Linked DNA regions of Homo sapiens. The protein of the gene in region 1 purifies or fractionates together with the protein of each later gene. This does not show direct contact. Each region holds a gene or a part of one and is shown on either strand. Other genes may lie near its edges.

Region 1 (7,841 bases):
CTAAAAACCCCTGCAGAGCCAATGATAAAACTAAAAAAAAATTTTTAATTCAGTAAAGTAGCAGGATAAAAGATGAATATACAGAAATCAAAAGCCTTCATACATACAAACATAAACCAGTTATAAGATGTAACGGTCCAGAAAATCCCATTTTCAACAGTAATGAAGAAGGTTAAATACTTAGAATAAATTTCAAGCTGGGGCTGGGCATGGTGGCTCATGCCTGTAATCCCAGCACTTTGGGAGGCTGAAATGGGCAGATCACCTGAGGTCAGGAGTTCAAGACCAGCCTGGCCAACATGGCAAAACCCTGTCTCTACTAAAAATGCAAAAATTAGCTGGGCGTGGTGGCATGTGCCTGTAGTCCCAGCTACACAGGAGGCTGAGGCACAACAATCGCTTGAACCCGGGAGGCGGAGGTTGCAGTGAGCCGAGATCGCGCCATTGCACTCCAGCCTAGGTGACAGAGCAAGACTCTGCCTCAAAAATAAATACATACATACATAAATTTCAAGCTGGGTACAGTGGTTCACACCTGTAATCCCAGTACTTTGGGTGGCTGAGGTGGGCAGATCACTTGAGCCCAGGAGTTCGAGACCAGCCTGGGCAACACGGCAAAACCTCATCTCCACTAAAAATACAAAATTTAGCCCGGCATGGTGGCAGGCACCTCTAGTTCCAGCTACTTGGGAGGCTGAGGCAGGAGAATAGCTTGAACCCAGGAGGCAGAGGCTGCAGTGAGCCAAGATCACACCACTGCACTCCAGTTGGGGTGACAGAGCAAGACCCTGTCTCAAAACAAATACATAAAGATGATTTGTTTTAAAAAAAAAAAATTAAAAAGAAACAGGCAAAAACTCTTGGTCAAAAAGGTTGGCTAAAATAACAAAAACATTTTAAAAAGAAATAAGAAAAACCTATATATGGAAAACTGGAAACACTCCTGAAAGACACAAGTAGACCTGACAAATACAAAGACACTCTGTGGTCTTGGGTAGCAAGACTGAACATCATAGAGATGTCACTTCTCCCTAAATTAATTATGAATATAATGTAATCCCAACTAAAATACCAAAAAGCTTTTTTAAGGAACTAGATAAAGTTGATACTCAGTTCATATGGAAGAACATGTAAGGACAGCCAAATAAAAATTAGGAGGAGAATCTGATCTAGCAGATATTGAAACATAATTACATAATTAAAACAACATGGTACAGGCATAAAAGTAAGGAGTCCTTGCTCACCAAAGCAAGTTAAAAGAAAAAAAAAATGGGCTGGGGATGGTGGCTTATGCCTATGATCCCAACACCTTGGGAGGCCAAGACAGGAGGACTGCCTGAGGCCAAGAGTTCAAGACCAGCCTGGGCAACATGGTGAGACCTCGTCTCTATTAAAAATTTCCTTAAAACTAGCCAGACGTGGTGGCACACACCTGTAGATCTAGCTACTCTGGAGGCTGAGACAGGGGGAATGCTTGAGCCCAGTAGTTCGAGGCTGCAGGGAGCTATGATTGCGCCACTGCACTCCAGCCTGGGTGACAGAGTGAGAAACTATCTCAAAAAAAATAAATAAATAAACAGTCCAGTGAAATAATATAGAAGTATACTCAAGTATGCATGGAACTTTACTACATTTAGAGATGAGGTCTGAGGCTGGTCTGGAACATTATACACGTAGCATCTCAAATCGCTGTTACAAGCCAGGTGCAGTGGCATACACCTATCCAAACTAGTTGGCAGGCTGAGATGGAAAAATCGCTTGAGCCCAGGAGGTCCAGACCAGCCTCAGACCTCATCTGTAAAAAAAAAAAAAAAAAAAACACTACCAAAAAAAAAACTCACTAAGGCAAAGGCAGACTTTTAAATAAATCATACAGATACAACTATTTATGAAAAAAATAACACCGACTTATATACCTTATACTATAGCCAGGAATAAACTCTAAATTAATCGGGGATCTCAATTTAGAAAATAAAACCAGACAAATCTATAAAAAAAAATAGGTGAATTCCTCTTTAACATAGGTATATATAGAGGCTTCCTAACTGTGACTTAAAATCCCAGATGCAATAAAAGATAGATCAATTTGACTACATCAAAACAAAATAAGAACTTTTGCATGGCAAAATAACACCGTGAACAAAGTCAAAGGATAACTGATAGGGAGAAAATATTAAACATTTGCAACATATAATCACAGAAAAATTGATATTCCTATTATATCAATGGATATTAAAACTAATGGGTGAACATTAGAAAACTAAAAGGATATTTATAGTCTCAAAGCATCACCCCACAAAATTCTTATTACAAACAGAAAAACAGCCATATTTAAAAATAGTAATTTTTGTTGTTGTTGTTTTTAAGATGGAGGGAGTCTCACTCTGTCACCCAGGCTGGAGTGCAGTGGCGCGATCTTTGCTCACTGCAACTTCTGCCTCCCGGGTTCAAGAGACTCTCCAGCCTCAGCGAGTAGCTGGAATTACAGACATGCACGACCACGCCCAGCTAATTTTTTGTATTTTTAGGAGAGATGGGGTTTCACCATGTTGGCCAGGCTGGTCTCGAATTCCTGACCTCAAGTGATCCACCCGCCTCGGCCTCCCAAAATGCTGGGATTACAGGCGTGAGCCACTGCGCCCGGCCTAAAAATAGTAATTCTTTATGAAAAACGTAGCATACACCACTTTATAAAAATACTCAAAGTTAACATCACCAGTAATGGGACAAATCAACATCACGTGCCTCCCAATGTGATTCCTTGAAAAAACACAATTCAAAAATTAGTCACCTGAATCAAATCATGAGGAAACATGAGACAAACCTAAACTGAAGGATGCTCTATAAAATAACTATCCTACATGCTTAAAAAATGTCAGTCATGAAATACAAAGTCAGACTAAGGCACTGTTCCAGATTCTAAAGGAGTATAAGGCATGTGAGAATTAAATACAATGCACATCCAGATTTTCTCCTGCTATCATGGGGAAATGGCTACATCTGAATAAGATCTATATGTTAGCTAATATTATAGTATTATGTCAATGTTAATTTCCTGATTTCTGATAACTGCACTGAGGTTATATAAAATTATATCCTTGTTTTTAGGAAAAAGACACTGAATTATTCAAGGTAAAAGAGTATTATATCTGTAACTTACTCAAATGATTCAGGAAAAATATATATTTATATAACATATAAAGTCATATATAGATAAAGAATAAAGTAAACATGGTAGAATGTTAACATTTTGGGAATCTGATAGAATAATTATGGCAATTATTTGTATTATTCATGTAACTTCTGTAAATCTGAAATTAAGGTCAAACTGTAAAAAAAAAAAAATTTTTTTTAATTATAAAAAAAATTGAGGAGGGTTAAAAGTGTTAGAAACAAACAAAAAAAACCACCACAGCACACATCAAGTATATTGCCAAAGTAAAGCAAAAACTTCCTGAAAGAGGAACCCAAAGTGGTAGAGCTGTATATAATTTCAAATTTGCCTTTCCAAATCCTTTATTTTTTAATATATATGTATGCATATGTATGTGTGTGTGTGTGTGTGTGTGTGTGTGTGTGTGTGTATATATATATATATAAAACCACATTTCCTTTATCTTTTTCTCTTTCTCTCTCTCATATATAAACAGAATCCTGCTGATAGAAATAAGTGTAACCGGCCAGGCACAGTGGCTCATGCCTGTAATCCCAGCATTTTGGGAGGCCCAGGTGGGTGGATCATCTGAGGTCAGGAGTTCGAGACCAGCCTGACCAACATGGAAAAAACCCCATCTCTACTAAAAATACAAAATTAGCCGGGTGTGGTGGCACATGCCTGTAATCCCAGCTACTCAGGAAGGCTGAGGCAGGAGAACTGCTTGAACCTGGGAGGTGGAGGTTGTGGTGAGCCGAGACTCCAGCCTGGGCAACAAGAGTGAAACTCCGTCTCAAAAATAAATAAATAAATAAAAGAAAGAAGTGTAACCTTTTTTTAGTTCCTAACACCAAGAAACCCTCCAATACCTTTGGCAGTCCCTGCATCCAAGGCTACAGAACCCATATCTTTTCGAAGGCGTTCCAGTTGTTCTCTCTGCTGTTGGCTCTCTGCGTTGGCCTGTATATACAGAGAAAAATGTCATCATATTCAAAAAGGAGTCCCAAATTAGATGCCAGACTTCTCAGTGGAGATGAAGAATTATACAAATACTAGAGGCTACATAAAAACTGATGCAGATAAGGGACGTCTGGTATAGGGACAGAAACACTAAGTAGCGTGGGCCTGGGTTACTGCAGAAGTTTAGACTGGAGGGCTCTGCAGACTGATTTAGAGGGTTCAGAAACGGAACACAAAAAGGTTTCAAAAGAACCCTCAATTCTAAAGTGTTGAGTTCAGTCCAGGGTGGATCCCCTGCTCTGTTAATTGAACTGGAACATTTAAACTGGCTAGGCAAAATGCCTACATAGAAAGCATTACTCTTTATTCATCCCCAGCCTACAAAATGAAAAAACAAAAGATACAATAAACTTTATTATATGGGGGAAAAAAAACACAAAAACCTGAAGTAGACATAGCAGGAAGGCTCAGAGACAAAGGATCCAATGAGCCTAAGGAAGCAGGACACTCGATCATTTGGGATAAGAGAAGGCTGGGCATGGTGGCACCTGCCTGTAATCCTAGCACTACAGGAGGCCCAGCAGGGAGGACTGCAGGAGCTCAGGAATTTGAGACCAGCCTGGGCAACACGGTGAGACCTTGTCTATACAAAAAATTTACAAAATAAAATTAGCCAGGCATGTGGTACATACATGTTGTCCTAGCTACTCGGGTGGCTGAGATGGGAGGATCGCTTAAGCCCAAAAGGTCGAGGCTGCAGTGAGCCGCGATCGTGCCACTGCACTCTGGCATGGGTGACAGAGTGAGACCCTTTCTCAACAACAAGAAAAGGAGTTGTGAAGCACCACTACACTCTTATACAAAATTCTACAACTAGCTTTAAATTGACCTCTGAAAGGGAAGAAACATTAAGGAGACTTTCCGCACCCAGACAACATACATACAAATTTACAAATTTAAATTAACAAGTATTTAGAAGATACACTGAAATTTCATTAGCCACTTGTACCTCAATAAAGCTACAAAAAAAACTTTTTTAATTAAATAAAAGATACATTAATAACCAAAACAAAAGCACTTATGTCATCAAGATTGAGCTGGGTTTTTTTAATGGCCCTTTTAAAATATACAAACAGCCTCCCTTCTTACCAGTGATTTTTTCAGACGTTCATATTCAGGACGATACTCCCTGTAAAGAGAAACACTTTCTAAATTCCTTTGCTTAATCCTCTATCCTACTGACTCTCCACATCCCCTTATCTCTATTTTCCTAAGACTGACAATAATAAAACATCTGACTTCATTCAACATCAGATGTAACAAATCTTAGTCACTGACAGAGTCTACCCAATGGAATTAAAAGCCAAGGTGCCCGCTCCCACCTTGGAACCAGGAGACACAATCCTGACTGCTGGGCTGGAAAGATTAATATTGGTGAGAACATGACTGATGAACTCACCATTCATTTGAGATAAAAGGGTGAGATAAGTAAAAGATAAGCCTGTTGAGCTCAGGACGTGCAACATACAATTATGTGCTTTACTTGAACAACAACAGTGAAAGGATACAGAAAAGAGTCTATCCTAAGGTTTTGATAACACCCTTGTGTCTAATGAATCAAAATCAAAATAACATGTCTGAAAACCAAAATATGGTTGTTAGGATCTTGCAAAATATGAAGCCAAAGACACATGACACTAATAAGCCGGCTATCATGCCACAGGCCTAAGGAAAGTGCACAGGGCTCTGACTCCACTTTTCTTTACTTGAATTCCAGTATTAACAATGACAATAGTTATAACATTTATTATAAAATGTGCTTACTATATGTCAGCAATTGTGATAAGTGCTGTATACGTTTTCTCAATCTTCACAACAACCTTAGTGCCAAATCCAGCCCACTGCCTGTTTTCATAAATGTTTTTCTGTAACACTAGCCACGCCCATTAATTTACAAATTGTCTGAGGACGCTTTTGTCCTACAATGGCAGACGTGAGCAGTTGCAACAGAGACTATATGACCCACAAAGCCTGAGCTACCTACTGTTTAGCTCTTTACAGAAAAGTCTGATGATCCCTGCTCTTAATCACTCAATACAATGAAGATTTATACTTCTATTTAAAAAAAACAAAATTTAAAGGGAACTTGTCACCCCTAAGTGTGGTCTGATTCAATACACATATGCAAACCAAATATAATACATCCATCATGAAAATGTAATGCTTTTCCTGGAAAAACTGCTTTCATATCAGAATTGTAGGTTATTAAGAATGTCATCAATAGAATTTTCCTTTATCCTCACCTTTCATATTCTTCGGCAGCACTGGTAACTTGCACAAAGAGTTCATCTAATCCAGTACCCAGAACAGCAGAGACACCCACCACCTGCCAAAAAGCATCATAAATGCCACTAAAGAAACCATTGTATATTTTTTAATGAAGTACATTAACTTGTTTAAATGTCATAAAATCTTAGTAAGAGTGGTTTATATTTTGAGAAGTCTTTGGCAAAAAGCCAGGCTAAAAAAGAACAAAACAGCACACCCAGTCAAAAGTCACAGAAATAAGTCCATGGAAAATAAAAAATTGAAAAAGAAAGATATGGCCTGAGTGCAGTGGCACATGCCTATACTACCAGTACTTTGGGAGGCTGAGGCAGGAGGTGCACTTGAGGCCAAGCATTCAAGACTGGCCTGGGGAACATAGCGAGACCCCAGTCTCTACAAAATATAAAAAATTAGCTGGGTATGGTATACCGCACACGCCTATAGTCTTAGCTGCTTGGTAAGCTGAGGCAGGAGGATCCCTTGAGACCACGAGGTCAAGGCTGCAGTGAGCTGTGATCCTGTCACTACACTCTGGCCTGGGTAAAACAAAGCAAGATCCTCTCTCCAAAGGGAAAAAAGAAAAAAAAAAGATAATTAGGACTGAACAATTAACAGGACTTATTATCTATTCCCTAACAAACCAAACCAAATCACTTTCTGCTTTGTCTATGTCTTTCCTTGGGCAATTAACCCATTCTGCCTTTGCTTACATAAATCTTACCCTTCTTCAAAGCATACCTCTAATGCTACATCCTCCAAAATCTGTCATTTTGATCTGCCGCCTCACAATCATCAGGCCCAACTTCCAATCTTTCTTAAGGTACTTACTACAATATATCATATGTTTTAATTCTGTGTGTAGCCTTCTCTCCCAAATAGACTATAAACTCTGAAGCTGGGGTCCCTATCTTATTCTTCTTGTACACTCCACAATTTTTAATAAGCAATGCTTTAAAAGTTACTTTTCAGTAGGTAATAAGCTTCCTTTCTCAGCCAGGTTCAAAGCCAATCCTATGGGTTAACAGATTATCTGGAGAGGCTGTCAGTGTGAGCAGGAGAGAAAATTTACCCTGAGTGAGCTGTAAAACTCATCTAACACCAGGCTCATTGAACGAGTCAGGTTACTGACGTATGTAGTCTCTTGATTCAAGGCATCTTGGAAAGCCTCAAAATCCTGCATCCATTCCACTGCAAAGCTGTGGTCAATGATGTCAGTCTGTACCAGAGAGAAGTCAATTATGAGCAACCAGAGCCAACAAACGCAAAATTTATTCTTTTAATTAAGTGTTGACAGCAAAGAACATATCATCCATATATTTTCTTTCTCTGCTTCTATTTCCCCTCCATTGCAACAAGCCACAAAGAACCACAATCATTGTGTAGTCAGTGTAATTAAATG
Region 2 (7,747 bases), on another chromosome or scaffold:
AAACAAACCTGGTCCATGCCATGATCTCTGCATTCAGGGAGCTCAAATGTAACAGCCGCCATCCCCAGGGGCAGTGTCTGAATGAGAGCCCGGTCCATGGCACAGAACGAGCAGTCTAGCCATAGTGACTGAATGGAGGCATGGATTTTGCATTGTCTCCTCACAGGCACACACAGGACCCTCACCCAGGGGCCCCTGACATGGCAGCATGGGCAGCAGCAGAGTAGGGCTTACAGAAGTGCCGGGGCAGGTGAAATGCCCACAGTCCCCAAGTCCCTACCTTCCAGTCCCCAGGACAGGGCGAAACTAAAAGGGGCAGCACCTCCAGGGGACACATGCAGTGCTGGGTGCAGAGCCCAGGGCTGAGCCATGAGGCTTAGGTTTTAACAGGGCTCTGCGGCTGCCTTGCTGCAAGACTTTTGGCAAGTCCCATGCCTCTCTGGGCCAGTGTCCTCAGGTGTGTGACGGGAGGACCCCTCTTGGCTTTCATTCACTTATGGTGTAAATATACACACGTGGTCCTATGTAATACGCGATGCGCCATTGCAAAAGCCTTCCATGATGAAAACGTGTAACAAAGGACAACAGCCGCAAGGTGCTGACAAACTGCGCTGGGCACCTGTGGAGCAGTGCAAGGGCGCCACCAGGTGGCAGTAACACGAATATACTCTACAACTATGAGGAGCTTTCAAGGCATTGTATTTTCTTAAAATGTTCAACATTTCACATTTTGTCACATTGCTCACCTTAAACTACATTACTTAAAAAGTGAGTTATTAATGCAATTAATGCTACATCATTCAGAATCAATATAATTCAAGTAAAACGTAGCCACATTATTTACCAAGGGTCTGCACTGGTAATATCCAGGCATTATTCCGGGTACTGGGAACATAAAGCAGGAGTCAAAACAGACATCCCTAATCCCTTGAAACTGATGGTCTCGTGGAGGCAGCACATGGTCTAGGGGAGGATTCGCCGAAGAGAAACCACTGAAAGGCATCAAGCCCCACGCTCAAGACCTGTGATCCCCAGCAGAGTATGTAAAAAATTCACACTTAAAGACACATCTAAACGAACCCGTAGAAAACCAAAAACAGAGAAACTCCTAAAAGCAGCCAGAGGAAAACAAAGGCAGGCTGCCTTCAAAGGAATAAGAACAAAACTGCCAACAGAAACAATGAAGTCGGAACACAACAAAATCATATCAACGCGTGGAAAGGAAAATAACCACCAATCTAGAATTCTAGAACAAAGGTGAAATAGACATTTCCAGACACACAAAAACCAAGGAAATGCATCACCAACAGACCCACATTAAAGGAAATACTATAGCATTCTTTAGGCAGAACGAAATGATCCCAGATAGAAACTTAGAGATGCAGAAAGAAATGATGACTAAATTATAAACATGCGAGTAAAGAATATTGATTGACTGGATACAGTAATGTCTTATGGGGCTGAAAACATACAGAGAATTAAAATACACCAGGCCGGGCACGGTAGCTCACGCCTGTAATCCCAGCACTTTGGGAGGCCGAGATGGGTGCATCACCTGAGGTCAGGAGTTCAAGACCAGCTGGCCAACACAGCAAAACCCTGCCTCTTCTAAAAATACAAAAATTAGCCGGGCGTGGTGGCAAGCGCCTATAATCCCAGTTACTTGGGAGGCTGAGGCAGGAGAATCGCTTAAACCCGGGAGACAGAGGTTGCAGTGAGCTGAGACTGTGCCACTGCACCCCAGCCTGGGCAAGAGAGAGAGACTATCTCAAAAAAAAAATAAAAATACACCAATCCTGTGCTCTCTTCGGCAGTACATATACTAAAATTGGAACACTAGAGAAGATTGGCAAATTAAAAAGGTAAAAAAATATATATATACCAATCTAGCAGTGTGTAAGTATGAGGATAGATATAAAATATTCTAAGATCTCTGAATAGATTGGAATGGGGTAAAAAGCAGCAATTAACATTAAAATGTGTTAAGTCATGAATGTAAGCTGAAAACTGTAGGGTAATCAATATATGAGCCCAAACAGTGTAACTTCCAAGTTAGCAGGAAAAAATAGAAACAGAAATGAATCCAGCAGATGGTAAGAATGATATAAAAATCCAATGTAGGCAGGACAAAGGGTACTACAGGGTGACTATAATTAAGAACAATTTATTGTATAATTTTAAATAGCTAGAAAAGTGAAGTTTGAATGTGCCCAACACAAAAATGAGAAATGTTTGAGGGGATAGATATGTTAATTGCCCTGATTTGATCATTACATTGTATACATGTATTTAGATTTCACACTGCCCCCATAAATATGTACATTATGTGTCAATTTAAAAAATGTTTAAATGCGGCCAGGCACAGTGGCTCACACCTGTAATCCCAGCACTTTGGGAAGCCGAGGCGGGCAGATCACGAGGTCAGGAGATGGAGACCATCTTGGCTAACACAGTGAAACCCCATCTCTACTAAAAATACAAAAAATTAGCTGGGCGTGGTGGCGGGTGCCTTGTAGTCCCAGCTACTCGGGAGGCTGAGGCAGGAGAATGGCGTGAACCCGGCAGGCAGAGCTTGCAGTGAGCCGAGATCGCACCACTGCACTCCAGCCTGTGGGACAGAGCGAGACTCTGTCTCAAAAAAAAAAACAAAAAAACAAAAAACAGTTTAAATGCAATGTAGGCAGGACAAATAGAAAGCACTGTAGATTTAAACCCAAAGCACTAGTAACTGCATTAAATTTAAAAGGACCAAATGCTCCCATTAAGAGAATACAGCGTAGGCCGGGCCCGGTGGCTCACGCCTATAATCCTAACACATTGGGAGGTCGAGGTGGGTGGATCACTTGAGGTCAGGATTCGAGACCAGCCTGGCCAACATGGTGAAACCCGTGTCTACTAAAAACACAAAGATTAGCTGGGCATGGTGGCGGGCACCTATAATCCCAGCTACTCAGGAGGCTGAGGCAGGAGAGTTGCTTGGACCTGGGAGGGAGAAGTTACAGTGAGCCGAGATTGCGCCACTACACACCAGCCTGGGCAACAAGAGTGAAGCTCTGCCTCAAGGAAAAAAATAAATAAAAATAAAAAATAAAAAAAGCAACTTACCTCTTCACCACCCAGTTCCCTTGGACCAACATCGCCACCTTCTGGATGCCCCGCAGAACAGCCACGGAATCGATGGAGGGGCCCAGGAGGCTCATCAAGTTGGCAAAAGGCATGACCTTCACTGAGGAGGACGCAGGAGACATCAGACAAGGAAGAGGGGCCGGGCCCTTCCCTCCCCTCCACCGAGAGTCCGCATAGCTTCAAGTTCATGTAATAACCCCAGAATGTGATAACTAACAGTAATGACACCCATCATAGCCAACAGCTGACACTCTCAGGCTGCTCACTACATGCCAGGCACTGGGCACCTCATGAAATCTGAGGATTATATGAAGTGCCCCTTAAGGAAGACTTGAGGGGTGCCTCAGGAGGAAGGGTCTATTACTACTCAGACCTGGAAAGGCTTCAAAGCTCACCCATGATCTCTTGGCTAGGAAGTAGCAGAGCCAGGAAGTGAACCCAAGCCACTTGGCTCCACTTGGTACCCTCAATCACTGTGCTCTGCTCCCGCCCAAGTGAGCCCTGGGCAGGGCCCAGGGAAAGTCCAAAATTTGGCTGGGCGCTTTGGCTCACACCTGTAATCACAGCACTTTGGGAGGCCGAGGGAGGCAGATCACTTGAGGCCAGGAATTTGAGACTAGCCTGGCCAACAAGGCGAAACCCCATCTCTACTAAAAATACAAAAATTAGCTGGGCGTGATGGCGGGCACCTGTAGTCCCAGCTACTCCAGAGGCTGAGGCATGAGAATTGCTTGAACCCGGGAGGCGGAGGTTGCAGTGAGCCGAGATTGTGCCACTGCACTCCAGCCTGGGTGACAGAGCAAGACTGTCTCAAAAAAAAAAAAAGTTCGAAGTCCTCTGCAGGAAGGAAGCCTAAAATCCCGAGCATATCATGGAGCTCCCCTCTCTCCTTAGACTCCTAAGAGCTCATGGTGGCATCTCAAAGGACGAGCCCAGGTTCTGCGGCTCCATTCTGAACTCAAGGATCAGGTCTGTTGTTCACCAGCCACGGGTACCCTAAAGGTTCTGGCACTCAGAGTCCTCTGAGAAAAGGAGACCAGTCCTTATGGTGCCAGGTCTGGCAAGAGTACCCAGAAGCAATGCCAGTGAAGACATTGTCATGAAAATGACCCTAGTTGAGCCGGTGCAGTGAATGGCGTCTGCTTGTAGGCCCAGCCACTCGGAAGGCTGAGGCAGGAGGATCACTTGGGCCCAGGAGTTACACAGCAAAACCTTTAAAAAAAACCTTTAAAACCTTTAAAAAAACCTTAAAAAAAAAAACAACAACAACAACAACAACAACAACAAAAAGCCCCTAGTCCGTGTTCGCCTGCAAGGCCCTGTACTTTAGAAGCCTCCTCTCTCTGATTCCTCACATTGGCCCCCAGGAACTATCATTAGTCTCTTTTCACAGAAAAACAAACAAAGCCTCAGAAAGGTTCATGACCTGCCCAAGAGCATGGCAGACAAGTGGTGAGCATGGCACAGGAACCCGAGCCCGCCTGTGGGGGCCAGACACACTACTGTCCTACATTCACGGGAACCCGGGCTGCCTGCGGGAGCTGGCCGCACTGCCGTCCTGCGTTATCTTTCCAGACAAGGATGCAGCTGCAAAGCTGGGCAGGCTGTGGGCAGCAGGGGCCTCTGGCCTTGTCCCCTGGTCCTCACTGTCCCACAGAGTCCATTCCTCAGGAGCCACTGGGACTGGGGCCCCCGGGTGGGCAGGGGGTAGGCACCCACCATTCTTCATCAGGATCTTGATCTGATCGGCCAGGGGCAGCGTGCGCAGCTGGGCCATCGACAGGACGTTGCTGGGGGCCACAGGCTTGTCTCTGGGAAAAGCAGAGGGGACGGGTTAGAGGCAGCCAGCCCGGAAAGGGAGAGGGTGTCCTGCCGCCTCTACTCACTTCTCCTCCTCCTGGCTGGGTGGCATCAGCATCATCAGGTACTCACTGCAGGGACATGGCAGGGGCAGAGGCTCAGGGCTGATCCAGGCTGGACCCTCCTCACCAGCCACCCAAGTGAGGGTCTGGGGAGAGGGTGCAGACAGCCCACCCCCGCCCTCCCCCAGCAGCCCTGAGCCCCTGCAGAAAAGTGGACCATCTCTTTCCAGGCCCACCCTCCTGGCCTTCTCCAGGGGACAATGGGCTCCACCCTCATGCTACAGGAGGGGCCACAGTCCTCTGGGAGGATCCACACCAAGGACCCCTGGGGACCCTGGGCAGGCATCCAGTTTGCATGCTGGCCCAGCCCATCCCACCTGGGTGACTTGACGAGCTCCGTGTTCTCCACCCCGCTTGAGCCGGGGCACAGCAGGTACTGACGCTCATGCTCAGAGCGACTGTCCTGTTGGAGGAGGGCAGGGTGTGAGAGGAGCCTCAGCTGATGGCCCTGGCCTGGGCCCCCTCCCCCAAGGCCTCCCGTCTTCCACTCCATGGCCAGCCACAGGACCACATCCAACCTCCTGAGCACGGCACCCAAGGCCTCTGACGTGGCCTCAGCCACTCATCTTCCTGGCCTTATGACCTGCCCAGCCCCAGCCCCCAAGCCTCGATGCCTTGTCTGTAACACAGGTACACCACCAGCAATGACAAAATGATGGCTAACATTCACTGGGCATCTAGGATGTGGTGGACTCTGTTCCACTGACTGTAAATATACTAACCCATCTCACCCTCAAAATAACTTGGCAAGGTAGGTACTATTATTACTACTCTCATTTTATAATTAAGAAAACTGAGGCTCAGAGAGGTTAGCTAACATGCCCAAGGTCACACAGCAGGAAACAGCAGTGTCTAGAAGTTTGACCCCGAGTCTAAGGGTCTGTTAACACAAATCTCTTCCAAGAAGGTTCCAGAGAAATCAGGAGTTGTTCCCCACCCCAGAAAATATTGGGAGCCCTGGCCCATGGTGTCTTTGGAAGCATCCCTCACTCAGTACACAGTTTCAAGGGTTAGGTTCTAAAATCAATGCACCAGGGCCAGGTGGTCGTGGCTCACGCCTGTAATCCCAGCACTTAGGGAGCCTGAGGTGGGCAGATCACTTGGAAATCAGGAGTTCGAGACCAGCCTGGCCAACATGGCAAAACCCCATCTCTACTAAAAAAACAAAAACAAAAAAATTAGCAGGTGCCTGTAGTCCCAGCTACCTGGGAGGTTGAGGCAGAAGAATCACTTGAACCCGGGAGGCGGAGGTTGCAGTGAGCTGAGATCGAGCCACTGCACTCCAGCCTGGGTGACAGAATGAGACTGTCTCAATAAATAAATAAATAATAAATAAATAAAAATAAAAGTAAATAAAGTCAGCGTACCAGATGAAAACCAAGCACAGTAAGAAAATCCCCTGGGCAGGTGGTGCTGGGAACTCTGGGGTGGCAACACATGACCGACCCTCTAGGACAGAACCGGAGAATGCATCTGGCCTGCGTTTAGGGCCTGGGCTGCAGCGAAAATATGTTACCAGGCACTAGCCCCACTGCAAGCCCAGCAAGATGCCCATGCCCAGGGGCCAAACCCCACCCAGGGAACCAAGGACTCGCATCTTTTCCTCTTGCTCTCCTGGGGCCCACGCTAAGTGGCTCGGCTGGAGTGAAGTGTAAACTGCCCACAGGACTCGATCCTCTATCTGTGGCTATGACTCATGAATTTGACTTAAGTTCAAGGTGAGACACGGAGGCCACACCATGACCCTTCCGGGCACCGAGGTGTTTCCCCCAGGACCCCACGAAGCCCCGCTCACCCTCAGGCCATAGTAATGCAGGTGGACCCAGGGCTCCTCTGCGTGCTTCTTCTGCAGGAACTCATAGGACTGCACACGGCGCTGGCGGGCCTGCTCTGACTCCGGCCGGGAGAACCGCACCTGCGGTGGGAAGGGGAAGAGGTCATACCGTCAGGCCTGTGACCCTTGCTGGACTGCCGTCTCAGCCCCTGCCAGAAGACCAGAGAACTCCGTATAGGGGTTTTCCACTCTCCCTTCCTTTCCTAGCACAGGTCGTTTAAATTCCGTTCCAACCGTGTCCCTCCCAGAGCTGCCTGCACACGCCAGGGAACGGCTTATACTTGCTCGTGCCTGCCCAGCCCAGAGGCTTGAGGGGGATTAGAGTCCCAGGCGCCAGAGCCAGCAGAGTCCTTAAAGCAGACAGGCCCAGGATGCCTTTTCTAAGTTCCCCAGAGCGGAAGGGAGTTTCTAAGGTCCTAATAAGCTACGGAGAGAACAGGATGAGCTCCCTGCGCCACCTCCATGTCCATTACGCCCGTGTTCCCCGGTCCTCAAGGGCTTCCAAACACTCACCACTCTCTAGCCATACTTGTGTATCATCATTCTACGTGTAGCATTTTTCTTTTGGTACTACTCATTTTAATCTAAATATGCTTAAATAGGGAAAACTTTACAAACCATAAATGGAAGGTTAAGATTCTTTGAAAAATCTTTAAAATTCAGGAATAACTATTAAAACGAAAACTATTCATCCGTGCCCCATAAAGAGGATAGAATCACAGTTAATTGACTTTGGCTCTGTTAAGATACAGGTTCATGGCAGAGCTGGTCTGCGGGTCCTCAGGGCTCCTGGCCCCAGCTTCCTGCTCCCAGGTGACTCTAGCCAAGCCCCAGGCACACATCTCCTGGATCCAGCCAGGGCTTC
Region 3 (7,747 bases), on another chromosome or scaffold:
AGGAAGGATAATTAAATCTAAAGATGACTTGTTAGCTGCTTTGTAATACTCTTCACTAGGATAAATGATGCGTTATGCTCTGCTATAAAATTGTATATTTCTTTATGGTACATACAGAAATATACAATATACATATATACCATGAAATACTATGCAGTCATAAAAAGGAACAAGATCATGTCCTTTGCAGAGACATGGATGAAGCTGGAAGCCATCCTCAGCAAACTAACACAGGAACAGAAAACCAAACACCGCATGTTCTCACTCACAGGTGGAAGCTGAACAATGAGAACACATGGACACAGGGAGGGGAACAACACACACCAGGGGGACTGTTAGGGGGTTGGGGGAGGAAGAGCATCAAGATAAATAGCTAATGCATGCTGGGCTTAATACCTAGGTGATGGGTTGATAGGTACAGCAAACCACCATGGCCCACGTTTACCTATGTAACAAACCTGCATGTTCAAACAAAAAAAAGAAGATTGTATATTTCTAACAGTTCCTGTCAAAAGAGTAAAAGATAGAAGGACTGAAGATGACAGTAAAAGAGAAGGTAGTTTCTATAGTCAGAACACGTTTTAATTATGGTTGCTATGGATCCTACTTACTTATTAATTGTGTGTTCGTACAGTGCAATGTTACAATCATTTTCTTCATTCACATCTAAATATTCAACCAGACTCTCATGTAAGAAATCTTCAAAATTCCTGGGAAAATATTGGTGAAAGAGACATCATTAAAAAGCATTTTTCTGCAGTATTTTATATAATAACAGGAGATACTGGCTTTCGTTTAGGCCCAAAGCACCTTTCTCTCCCAGAGAATATCATTACATTGGGATACCTGAAACATGTTATTCTTAGCTCACACAGTAACCACAAACTGCTGAAATAAAAACAGCAAAGTGTCTGTCTGTAACTCTTGTGAACCTAGTCCCCACTTCTTAAAAAAAAAATTCTGACCTTAGAAACCTCATAATGAGACCCACAGTGTCTACACTGACACATGATGTAAGTCCTTTTCTTACCAGAAACACTTACTTGTGTACTAACTGACATCAAGACTAGGTAACCCTCATGATCTAAATTGATGAATATTTTACAATGTCCAAGCAAGTTCACATGGAGCAAAATAGGTTTTTAACAGGCTGGTAATTTGGTGGAAAGAAATTAAAACACTAAAATGAAAATACACTTTTCTTAAATCATGTATGTGGGTATTAAGGAGATTGGTAAGTTTTACTTTTGGCTACTTACCTGTACCCTTGGGCCAGCTCTTCCATATGTTTATTTGTGACTGCTGGCTTCTGTTTCTTGACAATTATGTAGGGTCTAGAATGGAAACAGCAAACCAAATTAATAATAGTTCCAGGGAAAAATTACACAGGCAAGTTAGTTTACCAAAGTGAGATGAGGGAAGATGTAAATACAAACAAACCTATTCCTGGATTGCTGAGGACACCAGGTAATTTTTGTATGGATGAGCATGGTGTAGGGGACTATGCTCTCTCTCACATACACACACATACATACCCAAGCCCATGTGTACATGTGAGTATGTGTGGACATATTCATGCACACACACAGTGCTTCCTGCAAGTATCTTAGGAAACATTTGGTTTTGAATGAAAAGGCAACACAAAAATGATACTCAAAGTCTGAAAAGGAAACAAAACCTTTAATGCCATATTTTAAAAAACGGTGTAATGTATCAATCTAAAAACTTCCCGATTTCACATTGGAAAATTTTGCATACTACTCATGGAGTTAACAGGCAAAGAAGCACTGTCACCTAGGGTAATAACGGCGTTGTGTTGTGAGGTTCTGATGAATATCCAGATGTTTAGAGTAGTTTGATTTAGTCTAAACATCACTGAGCTAGGTTAGCAAGATACTTAAAGCTACACATTACCAAAGAGAGTGGCTAAAAGTTGGCAGAGAATGAAGCTTTCTTACTTTGTGGTTTTCAGTGACGTAATGGGTGGAAGGTGGAGAAGGCATTCTGGCAGATTAACCTGTAACTGTCAGTGGGGACTTGCCTCGGAGGGCTTTGCCACCATGAGGAAACCCGGACACAAAGGATGGCATGCGGCACTGAAACGTCAAGGGCTGTTGCTATTTGGATAAGCAGCTCTTACAGAGAGGAGCAAGTAACCACCAGACACTTGTGCGCTCTACCCTAAAGTCCAAATAACTATTTGAGGACTAATGAGCACTTTTCAACAGTTAAGAAGAGGAGCTGCACAATTACAAAAGGGGAACACAAGTTGTTGAAAAATGAACTGGGTGAGCTTTTCATGGAAATCCACAGTACCTCGAAATTCTGGCTCCTTCTTGGTAGGGAAGCAGAGCCTACTAATGCCTCATTTGAGCGCTGCAGTGGATTCAGGTTAAGCCTCAGATGAGAAGACAGAAACCGGCGGAGGAGAGGGAGGGGATCACATTTAGCTGCCTCAGTTATCCTTACGTTACTCAACGCATTCTACTATTTTTTCCTGCTAGATCTGTTATGCCATTATAAAGTTGCTTCTATAAAAGAGTTTTATTTTTGAATATATATTATGTTGGATGTAATGAAATCCTAAAAAAGAGTAACCTAGAAAATGTCACTGTTATTCCTGCCCTTAACTGGACCATGCTATTAAGTTATAAATAAGCACCTAATGTGTGCCTGGCACCCTACTGAGCACTTACCACACCTTCTATCAACTAGTTCTCAGGACAATCTTAGGCAGGCATTATTGTTTCCATTTTACAGCCAAGGAAACCAAGGCTGAGAGACTGAAGTAGTATACTCAGAGTCACACAACTCAGTAAGTGGGAAGTTAGGATTCAAACACAGGTATATCATCAGCTAACCATTCTTCGGTTGCAAAGAAGAGAAACCAATTCTGGCTAATTTAAGCAAAAATGAAGTTTACTGGAAGCATTAAGAATTTACAGGTGCTGGGTGCGATGGCTCACACCTGTAATCCCAGCACTTTGGGAGGCTGAGGTGGGTGGATCACTTGAGGCCAGGAGTTCGAGACCAGCCTGGCCAACACAGTGAAACCCCATCACTACTAATAATACAAAAAATTAGCCAGGGGCAGTGGTGTGTGCCTGTAATCCCAGCTACTGGGTCAGGGACGGGGGTGGGGAGCTGAGACATGAGAATCGCTTGAACCTGGGAGGCGGAGGCTGCAGTGACTCAAGATCGTACCACTGCACTGCAGCCTGGGTGACAAAGTGAGACTCTGTCTCAAAAAAAAAAAAATAATTTAATGGAAGGATAAGAATCAAAGAAAAAGGTGAAATGCTCAGCCTCAGAAAGAAAAGGAACGAGAGCAGTTCCAAGAATCCAGAAAATGAGGTTTAACAGGCAGTCTCTTGCATGTAGCACTGGGAGAATGAATCAAGTCCAACCACCTCCCTCCCTTGATTTATTTTACCTGGGATTCAAATTCTCTGATGAGGGGGTCTGACTGACCTCATTTGGGTCATATGCCCAACCCCTGGCTGAAGAGAAGAGGGTGCTGGACTGACCATCCCAAGAAGCCTGCCAATGGGGACAGGCAGTCCTCAAAAGAAAATGAGGTAGTGTCATATGAAGGAGGAAAGGATGCTGGAGGAAAGAAAGCATGCAGTCACTCTCCCAGCTCTGACAGACTTCCAGCTACTGCTGGCTCACTGCCTTGTGCTTCAACACTACCCGAGGTATACACAGAATAACTACGGTAATGCTAGAAAAGGCTTGTGACACAAGGCAATGTCCTCAGCTGATGTCTCTGCATAGCCCCTCAAACCAGACACCATGTCACATTCGTCTCTGTACCTCCGGCTCCTAGATAGTACCTGTGCACAATAGGCCCTTAATAAATACTTACTGAATGAATAAAAGGAACCTACTTTTCCATTGGATCTAGTGTTATTTTATTTCTTCATGCCTCCATGTTTTCATTCTTGCCTTTTTTCAGCCTTTCTCCTCCCCACCTACCTCCAAGTTAACACAATCCTACTCCTCCTTTAAAGCTCAGTTTGTAGCAACAGACTATAGTGGGCAAAATCATGCGTCAAACGAATCCTAAGGACTTTCAAATAAAAAACAGATTCCACCACTCTTTAGCTTTCAGTAAGTTACTTAGCCTCACTGAACCTCAGTTTCCTCATTTCTTAAATGACAAGAATAATCCAACCTCATAGGGTTGAATGAAGAAGTTAAAGCCTTACACATATAGTGTCTCCATTAAAATGACAAATGGTGGCTAGCATTAACCACTACCACAGTTGATTGTTATTAGTCATTTTTTCTGCCTTTCCCGGCAGACTGAGCTCTCTGAGGGCAGACTCTGTCTCCCATTAATCTGAATCCTCGGTACCTAATATGCATATTCATGAAGTGTTTGCTCACGGAATTAAATTTATCTTCACAATGAAAGAGGTTAAAACAGTTTCAAAAATAAAAACAAGTCTATTTCTTTCAAGAGCAAATATAAAGAGATTCTTAAAAACTCTTTTTAGTAACCTGCATATATACCTGCATAGCCTTCCCCCATCAGAAGAAATATAGACACATCGATCTGTAAGATTTGTTGAGATGGAAACAAATTCATTGATATATCCTGCTCTTCTCATGAGTCGAAATGTATTCACTAGCTTTTTGTGGTCTCGAATGACACCTAAGATGTTACCTAGGCAAAAAGAAAGAACAGGTAAGACAGAAATAAAAAATAAATGCAACCTGATTTAATATATCCAACCAATAAAAATAGTAATCAGCACTAAGCAGTTATTTGAAAATACCATTATTAACACCTGCAGCCAGTCCACAAGGTTGCAGGGAAGCAACAAAGGAAGAATGCTTAAGGGCCAGTCCTTCCACATGCAGGCTGAGGAATACTGGAAAAGTCAGCTTCATTTTCCTCATCTTTCAGCACAGTGCTGGGGCATGAACTTGGGGTCCAAACAACCTGGGTTTGAACACTGGCTCCATCACTTCCACAGGCTGGCAGTAAAGGTTAAACGAGCTGATCATTTAAAGTACTGAGAATTCTGCCTAGCACCTACTAACTGCTATTATTAAACTGCTTCTTGTTGTAATCAACATTTGTGAAATGAGGAAAATGAACTTTGCTTCCCAAGGTTAGCGGGAGGATTCAAAGAGGCACTGGGTGAAAGTGCAGAGTAAAAGCTCACTCAATGTTAGCCTCTGGGATACAATGAACTAGGCAGTCAGTTAACAGCCCTGCTGAGGCTCTGACCCCTTCCTCACCAGCAGATATAAAAAAGAGTTAATGCCTCCTAGAATGAGAGGAAGGGGGAGAGGAAGAGAGAACAGACAAGTGATAAGGGATAAGCTCATGGAGCATACTAGGGAGAGAACAGGCACACAGCACCAAATCAAAAGCAGAAAGGAAGAGAGCACACTTGCTGCTAAGTCTCTGGAAGACTTCGAAGGAGACGGGAAGAGGTATATGAAAGAAATAACTGGAGTGTGAGCCAAAGGAGAGGGATCCTCTTATCACAGGCTGCTGACATATTGATTATCAGATGGCTAGACAAAGTCAATTCATTATAAGAGTTGATCTGATAATTTTTGCAGAATGACTCCAATATTTGACTTGTACTTAAAGATACCATGTTGAACCGTATTCCACTAAGGATATGCCAGCAACTGCAAAAGGGGAGAAAGCAGCCACTTTCTGCAAAGTTACCCTTTAGCTCTGATAGCTATATCCTCTCAGAACCTTGGATAACCCAGCCAACAAAGTAACTGTTTCTGTTATCATTGTATTTTCTACCTTTAAGTGAAGGTCAACCTGGGCCCAGAATTAAAGTCTATCTGTGCTTTAAATACCAGGATAATAATGGATTCCCTCCCCCTCTTCACAGACTATCTAGGACCAACATGTCTCTATAATATACCCACCATTAAGAAAGACAAGAAACACATTTGGGTAAGAGAGCTCTTCCCCACATAATAAATTCACATCTTCTACTCCCAAGTTACTGGCTAATTTAACAATGGGTCCATCTTCCATATCAGTTGTGATGTGTGTCATAAGGGCCAAGTTTTTAACCAAACCACATGCCTAAAAAACAAAAGATGGTCATTTCTAAGAATGAACATTAGTAATACAAAGTACAGTTTACATCTGAAAATAGCTCACTACTTTGCTGGCAGCAATGCAAAGCAGTACAACTTTGTAGGGGATACTGTGGTGATTCGCACAAATGCCTTTAAAAAATATATATATCCCTTAACTCAGGGGAATTTCTCTTCATAACAAGCAAGGATATAAAATAGATTTAGATACAGAAATGCTCAGCACAGTACTATTTGTAATTGTAAATGCTGACGACATCATAAATGCCCAACAAAACTGATTACATTAACAATTACTCCCAGACATTGGAACATTACAGTCATTATGATGACATTGTATAAAATAAGTAAAGGAAAACATTAATAAATGCAGCTACATAAAAATATAAAACTTCTGGCCTGAAATGAGAGACTGTATAAAATAACTGGCCAGTGCCCTTAAGTTTCTTGGTCACGAAAGGTAAATAAAGACAGACTGAAAAACTCTTTCAGATGAAAAGAGACAAGGAGACATGACAACTAAAAACAATGTGTGATTCTGGATCAGAAAAAAGACAACAGTGGGACAACTGGCAAAATTTGAATAAGATCCATAGATTATAGTATTGTTCAATGTCATGAGGCTGATAACAGTGCTATGGTTACATAAGATGTTCACAGTTGGGAATCTAGATGAAAGATTGTGGAAAATCTTTGTACCAGTTTCATCACTTTTTTGTATATCTAAAATTATTTCAAAATGAAAAGAAAAGAAATCTTTTTAAACATCTATGCAACCCGGTACAGTTCTAAAACAAAAATACCAACAAGGACAGAATATAGCAAATAGGAAAAAAATACTTAAGACAGGTGACTTGTAAGATTGTATCTTCAGGTCTTAGAACCATCTGCTGCAGTAATGTACAAAATAGCTACTTTTTTGAAGTTAGCTGAAGCAATCTCTGGGAAATGAAATGTTTCAAAGTTCAAGATATATAAATTATGCAAAATTTGACAAACTGGATAATTTTAGTGTCAATTTCCATATGGTTTAAGATAAATTAAATAGTTTCTAAAAATCGCAGCTCTATACAGACTCCTATTTTCATCTCTTCCAAATAATAAATTCCTACACTTTGGACCCTACATCTTTTACTTGTTGTAATTATTAATTCAGCATATATTCATGGGGCCTGTACTCTAACCAAGGCTCTATGTTAGGAGCTTGAGATACAATGGTGAACCTTCCTTCCTCCAGAATTTTACAATTTAGAAGGAATAGAATCAAGTGAAACTAACAATGTTAACACAAAGGAGAAAGGACCGTGACACAGGGAGTAGCGGGTGCTATAGAAGTAAACCCATGTAAACTCCCTGGCTTGATGTTTAGGCAATTGCTTGTGTTTCCAATATAAGTGAGTCAAAATCCACATTAGGTCATGGACTGTATACTCCTAATTGGCTGTGACTGAGCCTACCTAAGGACAATAAGGAGCTGCTCAAAAAGAGCCCCTCATGAGCATGAGAGGTGGTAGGTCTTTCAATCTGCCTTCACAGTCTTATCCCCTCTGTGCATGTTTTGATTTTGGGATAAACTAAAATAATAAAGAGAAACATGGACTATATTACTTTTAGCTAACATACTGAATCAAATGCTTCTGCAGGTCCTAGTTTTAGAATG

What was found. The genes of interacting proteins can lie anywhere in the genome.
Region 2: the proteins of GPN1 (region 1) and POLR3E purify together in Homo sapiens (affinity purification with mass spectrometry; 3 studies listed by BioGRID and IntAct, with this or other methods). This does not show direct contact.
Region 3: the proteins of GPN1 (region 1) and POLR3B purify together in Homo sapiens (affinity purification with mass spectrometry; 4 studies listed by BioGRID and IntAct, with this or other methods). This does not show direct contact.

Annotation. Positions count from the first base shown.
Region 1 is NC_000002.12:27,638,702-27,646,542, reverse strand, and holds part of GPN1 (GPN-loop GTPase 1), read right to left. Parts: intron 7,659-7,841; coding exon 7,512-7,658; intron 6,501-7,511; coding exon 6,418-6,500; intron 5,304-6,417; coding exon 5,264-5,303; intron 4,501-5,263; exon of another isoform or gene 4,374-4,500; intron 4,115-4,373; coding exon 4,024-4,114; intron 3,976-4,023; exon of another isoform or gene 3,651-3,975; intron 1-3,650. UniProt on the Homo sapiens protein: Small GTPase required for proper nuclear import of RNA polymerase II (RNAPII). May act at an RNAP assembly step prior to nuclear import.
Region 2 is NC_000016.10:22,314,305-22,322,051, reverse strand, and holds part of POLR3E (DNA-directed RNA polymerase III subunit RPC5), read right to left. Parts: intron 6,964-7,747; coding exon 6,844-6,963; intron 5,452-6,843; coding exon 5,366-5,451; intron 5,058-5,365; coding exon 5,013-5,057; intron 4,938-5,012; coding exon 4,846-4,937; intron 3,227-4,845; coding exon 3,106-3,226; intron 1-3,105. UniProt on the Homo sapiens protein: DNA-dependent RNA polymerase catalyzes the transcription of DNA into RNA using the four ribonucleoside triphosphates as substrates.
Region 3 is NC_000012.12:106,430,644-106,438,390, reverse strand, and holds part of POLR3B (DNA-directed RNA polymerase III subunit RPC2), read right to left. Parts: intron 6,074-7,747; coding exon 5,911-6,073; intron 4,673-5,910; coding exon 4,519-4,672; intron 1,335-4,518; coding exon 1,260-1,334; intron 711-1,259; coding exon 612-710; intron 1-611. UniProt on the Homo sapiens protein: Catalytic core component of RNA polymerase III (Pol III), a DNA-dependent RNA polymerase which synthesizes small non-coding RNAs using the four ribonucleoside triphosphates as substrates.